2 linked regions of the Homo sapiens genome follow. The protein of the gene in region 1 binds, or shares a complex with, the protein of each later gene. Each region holds a gene or a part of one and is shown in the gene's direction. Other genes may lie near its edges. The genes, in order: F3 and F7.

Region 1 (7,659 bases):
ATCACCTGAGGTCGGGAGTTTGAGACCAGCCTGACCAACATAGATAAACCTGTATGTACTAAAAATACAAAATTAGCTGGGCATGGTGGCACATGCCTGTAATCCCAGTTACTCAGGAGGCTGAGGCAGGAGAATTGCTTTGAACCTGGGAGGTGGAGTTGCAGTGAGCCGAGATTGTGCCATTGCACTCCAGCCTGGGGCAACAAGAGCGAAACTCTGTCTCAAAAAACAAACAAACAAACATAAAATCTGGACATAAGTAGGAATGATGATATGTTTAACAGGAAAGGGACTTCTTTGTTTTACTCTGTACATCCAGAGTCTAGCAAAGAACCCAGTATCTGGTGGACATTCAAGCATTTGTTGAATGAATGAATTTCTGTTCATCAAATTTAGTACATATGTCAGGTATAAAGAGTTACAGAAATGAGGAATTAAGAGATGCTTAAGTAAATGATACCATATACAAAATTTTAAATCACATAAATATTATATTAATAAGAACATAGGTTAAGGGTTTTCATTTTAAATGACTTTTTGTTACTAAAATAATACCCACAATTCATATTTATTATTTATCTATTTTGTCACCATTGTATGTAGATAATAAAATAATATTTACTGTTCATCAAAATGAAAGTTGAAAGGTAGTTTGATAAGCTTTACGTTTATAAAAATAGATGTCTGCTGAAAATACCAATCCCAGTCTAAGACTTGAATTGGAAGGTTTTTCTCTAAAGTTACATTTTTCAGAATACTGGTGCTATGTGATAACTCATTTAGCAAAGCTTCTTGTAAGCTGTTCTAGACAGTTGATAGAAGTATTTTGAATGACCAGGATAATAGATTTTATCATACTGACTTTCAACTGTTTAATTTTGGTCTAAATGAACTGTTGGACTAGTATATTGCTATTTTCACAAAATGCATAATCATGACTGCCAATTTTTCCATGACTAACTATACCCAGCCAGATGTTTCTTAGGTTCTGCTGAGTCACTTTTTTCCTTTTCCTCCAGAACTCTGTGTTCCTACTAACTCCTAATTCCCTCTGGCCTTTTCTCATACTTTGCCTTTTACCTGAATTTTGGGTAATGGTTTCATTGCTCTTTTTACCATTTCATATGCATAAAATAAGTTTCTCTGAATTATTCTCAATTTTACTTGCTATCATGTATCTTAACCTATCTCTTTCCTGGGAAATAAACATTTTGAGGAATTTGTTTTAAAAAGTTATTCAGCCTCTGTATGCAAGGAAAACTATCAACAACCTCATCGCATGATGAAGTATATTCTGAATCATCGTAGAATCCAGTCTTTTAAAAAAATGCTAGCTAGTTTCCAAACTTCTGTATCTGGTTTCTGCTTCTCAGCTATCTCTCCTCCTGGTGAGATTTTCTGGTGGTGCAGAGATAGCTAATCACTGGTTAGACTGCTAGAACTTGCGGTCGAGTGGTGCCTTTCCAGTCATGATGGATTTGTATTTTCTTACCAATCTCAGCATCATGAAACACTCACTGCCTGGCCCCTAGAAAGAGTTTTCAGTGACAGATTTCATCTCTTGAACACCAGTGAAATATTTGGTTGCACTCATAGTTTTATAAAGTATTCATTGACTCAAAAGGTATTAAGTGCCTATTATGTGCTGATAATTGTGGAAAGGGTTGAGAGAGGAAAAAAACAGACAAAAAACCCAATCCAACAGGAAAGATTAACAGGTAAACACACAAGTGAGATTAAGTGAAGTTCTCAATGAAAATGAGTCGGTAAAATTGGCAGCAAGTACTATAAAAGTACAGTGGAAGGGCTGAAACATCTCCGCAGTTATTTTCAGACTTCTCATCAACCACATTTCATCACTGGTTATGCAAAGGGAATTCAAACTCTTCTACGTGTCTCCTTGTCTGTCTATTTCAAGGACTAACCATCAGGATATTTCTGCCTAAGAACAATGAGTTCCCCAAACTGCAAAGTATTTTCTATACTTTGTGTGCAGTTTTTGTGCAGTTTTGCACTTTTCTGCACTTTGTGTACATGCAGAACATTTTTGAGTGCTTATGGATGGATTAATTAATCATTCATTTGATGGATTTACCACCCAGTCTTACTTTCCTTCATTGGGAGTAGGAGAAAGCCTGGTGATGGAAGGAAAGCCCCCGGGGTCAGAAGACCAGATCTGCACTGTGTGGTTAGGCAAGCCAGTTTACTCAGATCAGCTGGCCACAGGGTTCTCATCCATAAAAGAATGTCTGTGAGGTTCTCCCATCCTCTGACATCCTAAAATCCAATGAGAAAGGGACTGGTCAAGCCAGAGAGATTATTGTTATAGTTTAGTAACTTTTTGAACTTCTCAGAGCCTCCAAGATAGATCATGGAGGAGGGAACTGTTAACTGCTAAGCTTGACTTTACTGACAGGAGTAAAAAAAATTGTGTTAAGGTTAGGGAATAATTTTAACAGTCAATTTGTTCTTGTGAACAAATTTCAACAGTGAAATTTTAGATATGTACTTTTTAATGGTGCCAAGCAGCAGTTATTATAGATCAACTGCTGTTTGGCACCATTAAAAAGTACACTTCGCACCGTCAAAAAGTAGATCTGGCCACAATTAGATCAGTCAGGGAAAAACACTTCGCAATGAAATATTATTTACCACGTTTTCTTCCTCCCTCTTCTTGAAAATAGTAATGATTTTAGCATTTTTAAATCTTGAAGAATGTCATTCCGTACTGACTAAAAAGCCTGTGCAAACACCCAACATCTTCTCTTTCCTGTCTATTTTAATGGATATACAAAATAAATATTCATCTAATTTATCAATATTTAAGGCACATTGTGTATCACAATCCAATGGTAAACATTTTTCTTATCAAATGGCTGATCTTGACATTGTTTAAAGCCCTATATGATTTCAGAAAAGTCAGTGACTCCAAGTGGAATTGCAACAATTTCTTGGGTCTTGTAACAAACCTGAAGTGTAACTATTTCTCTTCAGCTACCTTCAATCCCAGAGAGCAAAGAATCACATCCCAGGTGGAGCTGAAGATCTCTTAGGGAAAATGACTCAGGCTAGAGCCTGCATAAAAAGAGGATTGCATGGCTTAGTTTTGCAAACATAAATTTTGTGGGTTTCAGAGCTGGCAGAGAGCTCAAAGAGGAAATCATCAAGGGCAACTTTCTGCTTCGAGGAAGGAAAGTCTACAAGGGCTAAACCTGGATGTGCTATTTCAGTTCAGGCAAAGGAGGAAAATTAAAATTTTGCACAGTTTTATTCTGTTAAAACAAGTGGTTCAGTAAGCTAAACGAGATATGTATATAGTATGCATTAAAATGCAAGACTGACTTCCCTGGGAAAACGTGGGAAAGAAGGAGAGAGGAAACAAACAATTCTTACACTAAGAATTCTCCAGTCGTGTCTTGCAGGCAATATAGAGTAATAATAATAAAAATGACAGGAGATACTTTGACAGGATGGCTTAAAATGCCACTCAATAGATGAAGAGTTGTTCTCATGCTTGGCAAGTTTACAGCAAAGCCCAGAAGGAGAAGCCAGAAAATAATTTAGAAAAACCAAAGCTTAAAACTAGTGGCACACAACTCTGGTTACATTTTTCATTTTCATTTTTGGTTCCTCTGCATTTCGGTGGAACTCAGTCCCACAGATGTCTTCTTCAATGTGGGAACCATCCTTTCTGGAACCACAGAGCTGCAGATGTCACGCTGGAATTCTCCCAGAGGCAAACTGCCAGATGTGAGGCTGCTCTTCCTCAGTCACTATCTCTGGTCGTACCGGGCGATGCCTGAGCCAACTGACCCTCAGACCTGTGAGCCGAGCCGGTCACACCGTGGCTGACACCGGCATTCCCACCGCCTTTCTCCTGTGCGACCCGCTAAGGGCCCCGCGAGGTGGGCAGGCCAGGTATTCTTGACCTTCGTGGGGTAGAAGAAGCCACCGTGGCTGGGAGAGGGCCCTGCTCACAGCCACACGTTTACTTCGCTGCAGGTCCCGAGCTTCTGCCCCAGGTGGGCAAAGCATCCGGGAAATGCCCTCCGCTGCCCGAGGGGAGCCCAGAGCCCGTGCTTTCTATTAAATGTTGTAAATGCCGCCTCTCCCACTTTATCACCAAATGGAAGGGAAGAATTCTTCCAAGGCGCCCTCCCTTTCCTGCCATAGACCTGCAACCCACCTAAGCTGCACGTCGGAGTCGCGGGCCTGGGTGAATCCGGGGGCCTTGGGGGACCCGGGCAACTAGACCCGCCTGCGTCCTCCAGGGCAGCTCCGCGCTCGGTGGCGCGGTTGAATCACTGGGGTGAGTCATCCCTTGCAGGGTCCCGGAGTTTCCTACCGGGAGGAGGCGGGGCAGGGGTGTGGACTCGCCGGGGGCCGCCCACCGCGACGGCAAGTGACCCGGGCCGGGGGCGGGGAGTCGGGAGGAGCGGCGGGGGCGGGCGCCGGGGGCGGGCAGAGGCGCGGGAGAGCGCGCCGCCGGCCCTTTATAGCGCGCGGGGCACCGGCTCCCCAAGACTGCGAGCTCCCCGCACCCCCTCGCACTCCCTCTGGCCGGCCCAGGGCGCCTTCAGCCCAACCTCCCCAGCCCCACGGGCGCCACGGAACCCGCTCGATCTCGCCGCCAACTGGTAGACATGGAGACCCCTGCCTGGCCCCGGGTCCCGCGCCCCGAGACCGCCGTCGCTCGGACGCTCCTGCTCGGCTGGGTCTTCGCCCAGGTGGCCGGCGCTTCAGGTGAGTGGCACCAGCCCCTGGAAGCCCGGGGCGCGCCACACGCAGGAGGGAGGCGACAGTCCTGGCTGGCAGCGGGCTCGCCCTGGTTCCCCGGGGCGCCCATGTTGTCCCCCGCGCCTACGGGACTCGGCTGCGCTCACCCAGCCCGGCTTGAATGAACCGAGTCCGTCGGGCGCCGGCGGGAGTTGCAGGGAGGGAGTTGGCGCCCCAGACCCCGCTGCCCCTTCCGCTGGAGAGTTTTGCTCGGGGTGTCCGAGTAATTGGACTGTTGTTGCATAAGCGGACTTTTAGCTCCCGCTTTAACTCTGGGGAAAGGGCTTCCCAGTGAGTTGCGACCTTCAATATGATAGGACTTGTGCCTGCGTCTGCACGTGTTGGCGTGCAGAGGTTTGGATATTATCTTTCATTATATGTGCATCTTCCCTTAATAAAGAGCGTCCCTGGTCTTTTCCTGGCCATCTTTGTTCTAGGTTTGGGTAGAGGCAATCCAAAAGGGCTGGATTGCTGCTTAGATTGGAGCAGGTACAACGTTGTGCATGCCCCGTATTTCTACGAGGTGTTCGGGACGGCGTAGAGACTGGGACCTGCTGCGTACTGGCAAAGCAGACCTTCATAAGAAATAATCCTGATCCAATACAGCCGACGGTGTGACAGGCCACACGTCCCCGTGGGTCTCTGTGGAAGTTTCAGTGTAGCGACATTTCAGATAAAAGTGGAAAAAGTGAAGTTTGGCTTTTTTCATTTGTATGCAGTCCTAACTCTTGTCACACGTGTGGGATTTATCTTTTTCCATAACTTACTGAAAACCCTTCCTGGCGGGCTGAACCTGACTCTTCCTGAGCTGAGTCCTGGACTGGCACACTGATGGCTCTGGGCTCTTCCCGGTCAAGTTATAACAAGGCTTTGCCCATGAATAATTTCAAACGAAAATGTCAAGATCCTTGCCGGTGTCCTGGGATTACAAGGTGAATCTTGTCATGAAGAAATTCTAGGTCTAGAAAAAATTTGAAGATTCTTTTTCTCTTGATAATTCACTAATGAAGCTTTTGTGGTTGAAAAATAAAAAGTGAGGTTTATGGTGATGTCAGGTGGGAAGGTGTTTTATACATCAATACATTCGAGTGCTCTGAAGTGCATGTAATAATAGCTGTTTCTCTGTTGTTTAAAGGCACTACAAATACTGTGGCAGCATATAATTTAACTTGGAAATCAACTAATTTCAAGACAATTTTGGAGTGGGAACCCAAACCCGTCAATCAAGTCTACACTGTTCAAATAAGGTAAGCTGGGTACAGAAAAAGAAAATTAAGGTCTTTGATGTTTCTACTGTCCTATGCTGAACAAGAATGTCTTTAAAGCTGATTACTGGATGAAATTATTTAACAGATGACGAAGAAGAAGGGATTCTTGGCAATTCGCTGGCCGGTGTCATACTCTATTAGGCCTGCAACATTTCCAGACCTTAAACTGATAGAACATTTTAATTGTTTTAATTGTTTTTGGAAATGATGGGAGAGTTCCTAAGTGGAGTATAAACTGTGGAGAGATGAACCATCTTGAGTAGGCACTGAAGTGTGCTTTGGGTCATGATAGATTAATTAATCTCATCTAAACATTGATGTCTTTTTCTGTTGCTGTCTAGACTGTGAACAATGTCTAACACCTTAGGGAAGAGGTGGGGAGGAATCCCAATGTATACATTGCCCTTAAGCAGTGTTTGATTCATTCATCTTTGGACTCCATGAATCGAAATCTGGTAGAATACATGATCTTAGTGGAGGAGGCCAAATGCGTGACTCACTGAGCCTGGCAGAGCAGAAATACTCTGCTGTCTGCACCCTCTGGGTCTGGTGTGGCTCTGCTTCTTGGTGCCTCAACTCTGACTGGCAGCTGTCCCCAGGAGGCGATAATTCAGCATGTTCAATCTAAAGGTTATGACTTCCTTGATGGTTTTCACCATATTCTTGGCAAGTTTTTGGTTTTTGAAATGTTCTAGGAGGCTTGGTAGAGATCTTATGAAATAGAGAATAGCTGCTGTGGAAATTATTTTAATGCTAATTACATAAAAGTACAAAAGTAGCACTAGCTAAAACAAAAGGTATTTTGCTGTTCTGTTTTGTTTTAGCTTGTGCCAGGCCTTTTACAGCATTAGGAATGCAACTTCTAGATAACGATGCATCTTTTAAGTGAATGTTCTTGTTTTTCAAAATGAACTTCATGACAGTAGTTGCCAAACCAGCAAGGAGAACTTGCATGCATACGTGCATGCATGTGTGGATATGTATGGGGGTGGGGGGAGAGAAAGATGAAGGAATTTCATAACATGAAATAATGATTACAGTTCTGGTCAAACTTGTCAATTCAGATTTCACCAATTGAGAATTAGTAAGTAATTTCTCTGATACAGGCCTGAAGTTTACCTTAGTAAACACTTTACTTCCATATGGTAAAAATTAGATTTTGGGAGGAATGCTTACCTCCTAAATATATTCAATCTAATATTTGAGGGACACATGGGAATATATTTATGATTCATCTGCTTTTTAAACATAAGCCTTTGTTAACTGTAAGTTCTTGAACTTTATAAGGCTGCTGTTATTTAAATGAGCACAGCTCCTGATCTGCAAACAGCAGAGCGCAGGGCTACAGCTTGGGGGATGCCAGCCGACTCAGGGTGGTCCTATGGACTGAACAATCTCTTGCTGCTGTACTGGAGGGCCTGGGAGCTTTTCCATCAGCCTCGGCCTGAGGTGTGCACTCTTCTCCTGCCCACCCCAGGAATAAATGAGATTCCTGGTTAAAAAGGACCAGAGCAGTCATTTTACAGTTGAGGAAACTGTTGCTCTGAGAAGTGAGGGATTTATTCATGACTACACTGATGGTGAGTGCCCATGTCAGGTCTGGAACCAAAGTCTA
Region 2 (7,939 bases), on another chromosome or scaffold:
CCACTACTCTCCAGCGCCATTTAGCCGCAGTACTAGTGACTACCACCGCAAAGGAAAAGGAAACAAGGCCAGCGCGGCGGCTCAGGCCTGTCATCCCAGCACTTTGGGAGGCCGAGGCGGCAGATCACGAGGTCAGGAGATCGAGACCATCCTGGCTAACACGGTGAAACCCCGTCTCTATTAAAAATACAAAATTAGCCGGGCGTGGTGGTGCATGCCTGTAATCCCAGCTACTCGGGAGGCTGAGACGGGAGAATCGCCTGATCCCAGGAGGCAGAGGTTGCCGTGAGCCGAGATGTCGCCATTGCACTCCAGCCTGGGCAACAAGAGTGAAACTCCATCTCAAAAAAAGAAAAAAAGAAAAAGGAACCAAGGCATGCTAATTGAAAAATAACTTTTCATATCTAGAAAAACCAGGTGAATTCATAAACTATTGAAACTAAGAAGTCCACAAGATCAACCCACAAAAAGTTATTAACATTCCTAGCAATAACAATACTATTTTAACAGCAACCTAAATACTAAAATAAATGTAACAAAAGTTTTGGACAAAATTATGAAACATGATAGAAGGTCATAAAAGAAGGCCTAAATGGGAGATTTTTATGGATGGGACAATTCAGTATCACCAAAGTGTTAACTCTCCCCCAAGTTAATCTGTGTATTTCATCAAAATTCCAACAGAATTCTTTGTGGAATTAGGAAGTTGATTGTAATAAACATAGAAGATAAAGGTCTGAGTATAGCCGTGGTGATTCGGGGAGCAGAGGCAGGAGGAGGAGGGCTCACCTACCAGGCATCTGGATAGATCATAAACCTGTCATCAGTCGTGACAAGGGGGAGAGAGGCTAAACTGGTCGAGCAGAATTCAGATTCCCAGGCAGGGATGTGTGCAGGGACCTGGCTTGTCCTGGGGCTGGTCAATCTTTGGCACGGAATGGCCTCTTCAGGAACGGGTGTTATTGGGACAGCTGCCTTTCCATGTGGATGATGGCATAAAAGTATAGCCCCCCCAAACTTAAGATTAAAACATTATTATGAGGAAACAGAATATTCTTATTGCCTAGGGCAAGGATAGATTTCTTACAAAAGACAAGCTACACTTTAAGAGATGGACAAAAAGATAAGATGGACAATCTGAGCACATCCCATGGTGAATTTCTCTCCACGCTAAGACCCCAGACAAGGGTGAAAAGCAGGACCAAGGCCCAGAGAAGAAAAATTCTGCTCAAAATCATAACTGTTCAACCTTGCATACATTCTCTCTCTTAAACTGAAAGTTAGCATCCTACAGCACTGGTGTGACACCCGGCAGGCCCGAGGGCTCAGCTGCCTCCAGCTGTGGCCCCAAGAAGGCAAAGCACCCGGGTGGGGTGGAGGGAGCAGCCCCGTGCTCTACTGGCTGACAGTGGTGCCCAGGCCCAGCTCCCTTCTCTGCACAGACAGCAGAGTTCCGCTTAGCACAGGCTTTTCCTCGCCAGTGCACACACTGTCAGCCATTGGAACTGGCCTGCAAGACAGCTTGCTGTGGCGGCTTTGCAGGCACAGGGCACACAGGCATCCGTGCACGCAGCTCCTCTGTCCTCCCATGCCCTGCACCCTCCGTCACAAGGAAACCCTTGCTTCTAGGATTGCACCAAATAGGATTTGGAACCAATTGGTGCCCAAGCTCAAATCCTGTTAGTGGCTGCCTGTTTCCCTGGCATACATGCGTCCTGCCGAGATGCATTTGGCACCAGGTGGGATGTGCTCACTGGTTCCCAAAACGAGAACACATAGCAGTTTCCCTGGATGTTTGTTCAATACTATTCCCGGGACCTGCCCGTAGATTCCAATTCCTTATGGGTGTGGAAGAGCCTGGAAATCACGTGTGTGTAGGTGTGTGGCATGTGTATAGGGGTGTGTTTATGTGGTGTGACTTTGGGGTATGAGTGTGGCATGTGTACGGTGTGTGTGAGTGTGGTATGTGTATGGCGTGAGTTTGGGTTGTGCGAGCGTGGTTCTCATGTACGAGTGTGAGCATGGAGATTCTTTGGTAGGGAAGGAGTCAGGGTCTCCCTCTGTCGCCCAGGCTTGAGTGCAGTGGCACAATCTCAGCTCATTGCAACCTCTGCCTCCCGGGTTCTCTGTCTCTGGGACCACAGGCATGAACCACCAAGCCCAGCTAATTTTTTTATTTTTTGTCTAGCTTTGGTCTTGCTATGTTGCCCAGGTTGGTCTGGAACTCCTTTCCTCAAGCGATCCTCAGTCCTCAGCCTCCCAAAGTGCTGGGATTACAGGCATGAGCCACCACCCAAGAGATTCTGATGTCACAGACATCTGACTCACACACTCCCTGGACAGCTCACGTGTGCCCACCACCACAGTCAGGGATGGCTGCAGATGAACAAGGTGCTGACGTGGTTTCTGTAGCCCCCAAACAAGCAACTTGCCTTGAGATGACAACCAAAGTTTTCCTGTGTCCTCCACACTCAAGAGTGACTGTGAGGCGGAGGGGCCCAGCCCTTCTTGCAGGCGGGAATGAGTGGATGGGTGGATCAACAGAGGCTGCCACAGGAGAGAGGGAGGCCTGGCCTGGGAACAGAGCTGTGACCGTGCCCTTCCCCAGGGTAGGGGCTGAAGGACCCTCCCATCCTAGTGACAGGGCCACAGCATGTCCAAGGAGGCCCCAGAGGAGGTCCCGGGAGTCCTGGGAGAGCCTGGTTAGCCTCCCTGAAGGGAGGAAGTGGGGTTTTGTGAGAGGGATGGTGCAGCAGCCCCCACACCTGCTACTCCGTGTGGCCGGGTCCAGCCCCAGGCAAGGTTCCAGGCATGCCCCTGGGACAGACGTGGGAGGGAGACCAGCAGGCAGGTCCCCCTCAGGGAGGTATGGAGCGGGTCCCCGGGGCCAGGTGGAGCCCCTCACACCTGTGTCCTCAAGGACCCACACCAGGACAATGGCCATAGGCGGGCACCTGCAGCCGCCCTGGCCAGCAGTGAGACGGGCAGAGAGCCCAGCCAGATAGCCCGGTTCCTGCCCCCTCCCGCCTGCCCGCACAGAGAGGGCTGCATGCAGGTGAGGGTCCATCACCTGAAGAGCTTCACCAGCCCCGAGGCCATGAGCCACTGAATCTCTCAGGGGGTTTTGGCGCTTGAGGTTCCCCAGGTCATTCTGCTGCCCAGAGAGGGTTGAGGACCTCTGACCTGGAGCCCCAAAGGGGAAGGGTACCCTAAGACCAGCCAGCCATCTACTCTCAGGTGGGAAAGGGGTAGGGTTTAGATATGGCCCCCTCCCCTCCACGTCCTGAAATTACCTTGGGCTGTGCTGGCCGAGAGCCGCGGGGACCAGATTTGAGCTGGACGTGAGCTTTATTCCAGACGGAGCAGCTACTTTGTAAGCGATCTCCCTGGGATCGATATCATGGAGGGGCACAGATGGGCTTCAGCTGTGCTGGGTGGAAGAGAAAACATGCCCTGTCGGCCCCTCAGCAAGTGCTCTGCTCTCTGGACTGAGATGCAGGTCAGCAGCAAGCAGGGAGGCTTTGGGGGTGCTGGGGGCTGCTTTGAAAGGCACCCCTGAGCTAAGACTTGGCTGTTGGGAAGGAATCACCTCCCTCCCTCCAGCCGTAAAAAGAACTGGACATCAGCTTCCAAAGAAGTCATCAGCAATGCAACTGTTCACATGGAGGATACTCCCTGCTTGAGGGGTCAGACAGGCCTGCTGGGCAACCCAGGAGGCTTGGATGACCGTCTACCCCAGTGTTTTTGGGATGGAAAGTTCCACATTCTGAGAACCCTCAGTCCCTGGGCAACCTGGGGTGGTTAGTCACCACAGCTTGTGGCTTGGGCCCATGACAGCAGGTAGAAATGACGTGGACTGCCGCCAGCCGGGCACAGTGGCTCACGCCTGTAATCCCAGCACTTTGGGAGGCTGAGGCATGTGGATCACTTGAGGTCAGGAGTTCGAAACCAGCCTGGTCAACACGGTGAAACCCCATCTCTGCTAAAAAAAAAAAATATATATATATAAATTAGCCAGGCATGGTGACGTGCACCTGTGGTCCCAGCTACTCAGGAGGCTGAGGCACAAGAATCACTTGAACCCGGGAGGTGGAGGTTGCAGTGAGATTGCACCAGTGCACTCTCCAGCCTGGCAACAGAGCAAGACTCTGTCTCAAACAAACAAAACAAAACAAACAAAAAGACGTAAGATGTGGACCGCTGGAGAATGGGGGTGCTGCCTGCAGTCAAAACGGAGTGGGGGTGCCCAGCTCAGGGCCAGAATGATCCTATTCCCGGCACTTCTCAGTGAGGCTCTGTGGCTCACCTAAGAAACCAGCCTCCCTTGCAGGCAACGGCCTAGCTGGCCTGGTCTGGAGGCTCTCTTCAAATATTTACATCCACACCCAAGATACAGTCTTGAGATTTGACTCGCATGATTGCTATGGGACAAGTTTTCATCTGCAGTTTAAATCTGTTTCCCAACTTACATTAGGGGTTTGGAATTCTAGATCGTATTTGAAGTGTTGGTGCCACACACACCTTAACACCTGCACGCTGGCAACAAAACCGTCCGCTCTGCAGCACAGCTGGGGTCACCTGACCTTTCTCCTGTCCCCCCCACTTGAGCTCAGTGGCTGGGCAGCAGGGGATGCATGGCCACTGGCCGGCCAGGTGCAGCTCTCAGCTGGGGTGTTCAGAGGACGCCTGTGTCCTCCCCTCCCCCATCCCTCTGTCACCCTTGGAGGCAGAGAACTTTGCCCGTCAGTCCCATGGGGAATGTCAACAGGCAGGGGCAGCACTGCAGAGATTTCATCATGGTCTCCCAGGCCCTCAGGCTCCTCTGCCTTCTGCTTGGGCTTCAGGGCTGCCTGGCTGCAGGTGCGTCCGGGGAGGTTTTCTCCATAAACTTGGTGGAAGGGCAGTGGGCAAATCCAGGAGCCAGCCCGGGCTTCCCAAACCCCGCCCTTGCTCCGGACACCCCCATCCACCAGGAGGGTTTTCTGGCGGCTCCTGTTCAATTTCTTTCCTTCTAGAAACCAGCATCCAGGCACAGGAGGGGAGGCCCTTCTTGGTGGCCCAGGCTTTGGCGGGATTATTTTTCAAAGAACTTTAGGAGTGGGTGGTGCTTTCCTGGCCCCCATGGGCCCCTGCCTGTGAGGTCGGACAAGCGCAGGGAGTCTGGGGCCTCTCAGAGTGCAGGAAGTGCGCACAGGGTGCTCCCAGGCTGGGGAGCACAGGTAGGGGACGGTGCGTGGGGGATGGCGCCTGGGGCATGGGGGATGGGGTGTGGGAAACGGCATGTGGGGCGTAGGGGATGGGGTGTGGAGGATCGGGGGTGGGGATGGCGTGTGGGGTGTGGGGGATGGGCCGTGGGGGGGTGGGGCCTGGGAAACAGCATGTGGGGCATGGGGTGTGGGGGTGAGGTGTGGGAAAGTGTGTGGGGTGTGGGGGATGGGGCATGGAAAGGGCGTGTGGGGTGCAGGGGATGGGGCATGGAGGTGTGGGGGATGGGGTGTGTGGGGTGTCGGGGATGGGGCATGTGGGGTGTGGGGGATGGGGCATGGAAAGGGCGTGTGGGGTGCAGAGGATGGGGCATGGGGGGGTGGGGATGGCGAGTGGGGCTGGGGCCTGGGAATGGTGAGTGGGGCATGGGGATGGCGAGTAGGGGGTGTGGCGTGAGGATGGCTAGTGGGGCGTGGGGATGGCGTGTGGGGATGGCGAGTGGGGGGTGGGCTGTGAGGGACAGTGCCTGGGATGTGGGGCTGCAGCCCTAGCTCACAGCATGGCCTTATGACCCCGGCCACCTTCCTGCCCCAGGCGGGGTCGCTAAGGCCTCAGGAGGAGAAACACGGGACATGCCGTGGAAGCCGGGGCCTCACAGAGGTGAGCAGGGACTGCCACTGGTTTTGTCCTGGGGCCCAGTGGGGGCCAACATCACCTCCTTCCCCTCCCATGGCAAAGAGCCAGCCCGCGGGGTGGCTACTGCAGTGCCCCCCAAGGAGGGTGTTCCCTGCTCGAGAGGAAGTGACCGCTCCAGCTTGGCCTTCCCTGGGACTGGGGTGCAGGCGATTTTATCTTCTTTGCTCCATTCTGTTCCTTCCAGATAATCGTGTGTTCTTCATCAGGTTTTCCTCAGTTCTTGAGAGCTTTTCTGATGCAAATCTGCTTTCACCCCAGGGCGGTCACCGGCTCTGCTCACACCAGCCTCCAAGGGTGTGGGTGTCCCGGGAGTGTGGGTGTCCCGGGGGCGTGGGTGTCCCAGGAGTGTGGGTGTCCCGGGGGCGTGGGTGTCCCGGGAGTGTGGGTGTCCCGGGGGCGTGGGTGTCCCGGGAGTGTGGGTGTCCCGGAGGCGAGGGTGTCCCGGGAGTGTGGGTGTCCCGGGGGAGTGGGTGTCCCGGGAGTGTGGGTGTCCCGGAGGCGAGGGTGTCCCGGGAGTGTGGGTGTCCCGGGGGCGTGGGTGTCCCGGGAGTGTGGGTGTCCCGGGGGAGTGGGTGTCCCGGGAGTGTGGGTGTCCCGGAGGCGAGGGTGTCCCGGGAGTGTGGGTGTCCCGGGGGAGTGGGTGTCCCGGGAGTGTGGGTGTCCCGGAGGCGAGGGTGTCCCGGGAGTGTGGGTGTCCCGGGGGCGTGGGTGTCCCGGGAGCGTGGGTGTCCCGGGGGCGTGGGTGTCCCGGGAGTGTGGGTGTCCCGGGGGCGTGGGTGTCCCGGGAGTGTGGGTGTCCCGGGGGCGTGGGTGTCCCGGGAGTGTGGGTGTCCCGGGAGTGTGGGTGTTCCGGAGGCGAGGGTGTCCCGGGAGTGTGCGTGTCCCGGGGGCGTGGGTGTCCCGGGGGCGTGGGTGTCCCGGGGGCGTGGGTGTTCCGGAGGCGAGGGTATCCCAGAAGTGTGAGTGTCCCAGGGGCGTGGGTGTCCCGGGGGTGTGGGTGTCCCGGGGGCGTGGGTGTCCCGGGAGTGTGGGTGTTCCGGAGGTGAGGGTGTCCCGGGAGTGTGGGTGTTCCGGAGGCGAGGGTGTCCCGGGAGTGTGGGTGTCCCGGGGGCGTGGGTGTCCCGGGAGTGTGGGTGTTCCGGAGGTGAGGGTGTCCCGGGAGTGTGGGTGTTCCGGAGGCGAGGGTGTCCCGGGAGTGTGGGTGTCCCAGGGGCGTGGGTGTCCCGGGAGTGTGGGTGTTCCGGAGGCGAGGGTGTCCCGGGAGTGTGGGTGTTCCGGAGGCGAGGGTGTCCCGGGAGTGTGGGTGTCCCGGGGGCGTGGGTGTCCCGGGGGTTGTGGGTGTCCCGGGAGTGTGGGTGTTCCGGAGGCGAGGGTGTCCCGGGAGTGTGGGTGTTCCGGAGGCGAGGGTGTCCCGGGAGTGTGGGTGTCCCGGGGGTGTGGGTGTCCCGGGGGTGTGGGTGTCCCGGGAGTGTGGGTGTCCCGGGGGAGTGGGTGTCCCGGGAGTGTGGGTGTTCCGGAGGCGAGGGTGTCCCAGGAGCGTGGGTGTCCCGGAGGCGAGGGTGTCCCGGGAGCGTGGGTGTCCCGGGGGCGTGGGTGTCCCGGGAGTGTGGGTGTCCCGGGGGAGTGGGTGTCCCGGGAGTGTGGGTGTCCCGGAGGCGAGGGTGTCCCAGGAGTGTGGGTGTCCCGGGGGCGTGGGTGTCCCGGGAGTGTGGGTGTTCCAGAGGCGAGGGTATCCCAGAAGTGTGAGTGTCCCGGGGGTGTGGGTGTCCCGGGGGTCGTGGGTGTCCCGGGAGTGTGGGTGTTCCAGAGGCGAGGGTGTCCCGGGAGTGTGGGTGTCCCAGGGGTGTGGGTGTCCCGGGGGCGTGGGTGTCCCGGGAGTGTGGGTGTCCCGGGGGAGTGGGTGTCCCGGGAGTGTGGGTGTTCCGGAGGCGAGGGTGTCCCGGGAGTGTGGGTGTTCCGGAGGCGAGGGTGTCCCGGGAGCGTGGGTGTCCCGGGGGCGTGGGTGTCCCGGGAGCGTGGGTGTCCCAGGGGTGTGGGT

Evidence for each region.
Region 2: the proteins of F3 (region 1) and F7 are in contact, whole or in part, in a crystal structure (PDB 6R2W), measured with the Homo sapiens proteins. Residues at the interface, in NP_001984.1 of Homo sapiens: Thr49 (codon at 5,956), Asn50 (codon at 5,959), Lys52 (codon at 5,965), Ile54 (codon at 5,971), Glu56 (codon at 5,977), Trp77, Lys78, Ser79, Lys80, Phe82, Tyr83, Glu88, Asp90, Asp93, Gly141, Gln142, Thr144, Glu162, Arg163, Thr164, Leu165, Arg167, Phe172, Tyr188, Trp190, Lys191, Ser192, Ser194, Ser195, Gly196; in NP_000122.1 of Homo sapiens: Leu73, Lys78, Phe91, Arg96, Leu99, Phe100, Ser103, Ser120, Lys122, Gln124, Leu125, Ile129, Cys130, Phe131, Cys132, Leu133, Pro134, Phe136, Glu137, Gly138, Arg139, Lys145, Gln148, Ile150, Val152, Asn153, Glu154.

Annotation. Positions count from the first base shown.
Region 1 is NC_000001.11:94,538,621-94,546,279, reverse strand, and holds the start of F3 (tissue factor isoform 1 precursor), read left to right. Parts: upstream 1-4,520; 5' UTR 4,521-4,643; coding exon 4,644-4,743; intron 4,744-5,911; coding exon 5,912-6,023; intron 6,024-7,659. UniProt on the Homo sapiens protein: Initiates blood coagulation by forming a complex with circulating factor VII or VIIa. The [TF:VIIa] complex activates factors IX or X by specific limited proteolysis.
Region 2 is NC_000013.11:113,101,046-113,108,984, forward strand, and holds the start of F7 (coagulation factor VII isoform b precursor), read left to right. Parts: upstream 1-4,745; 5' UTR 4,746-4,751; coding exon of another isoform or gene 4,752-4,796; coding exon 4,797-4,860; intron 4,861-5,799; coding exon of another isoform or gene 5,800-5,865; intron 5,866-7,939. UniProt on the Homo sapiens protein: Initiates the extrinsic pathway of blood coagulation. Serine protease that circulates in the blood in a zymogen form. Factor VII is converted to factor VIIa by factor Xa, factor XIIa, factor IXa, or thrombin by minor proteolysis.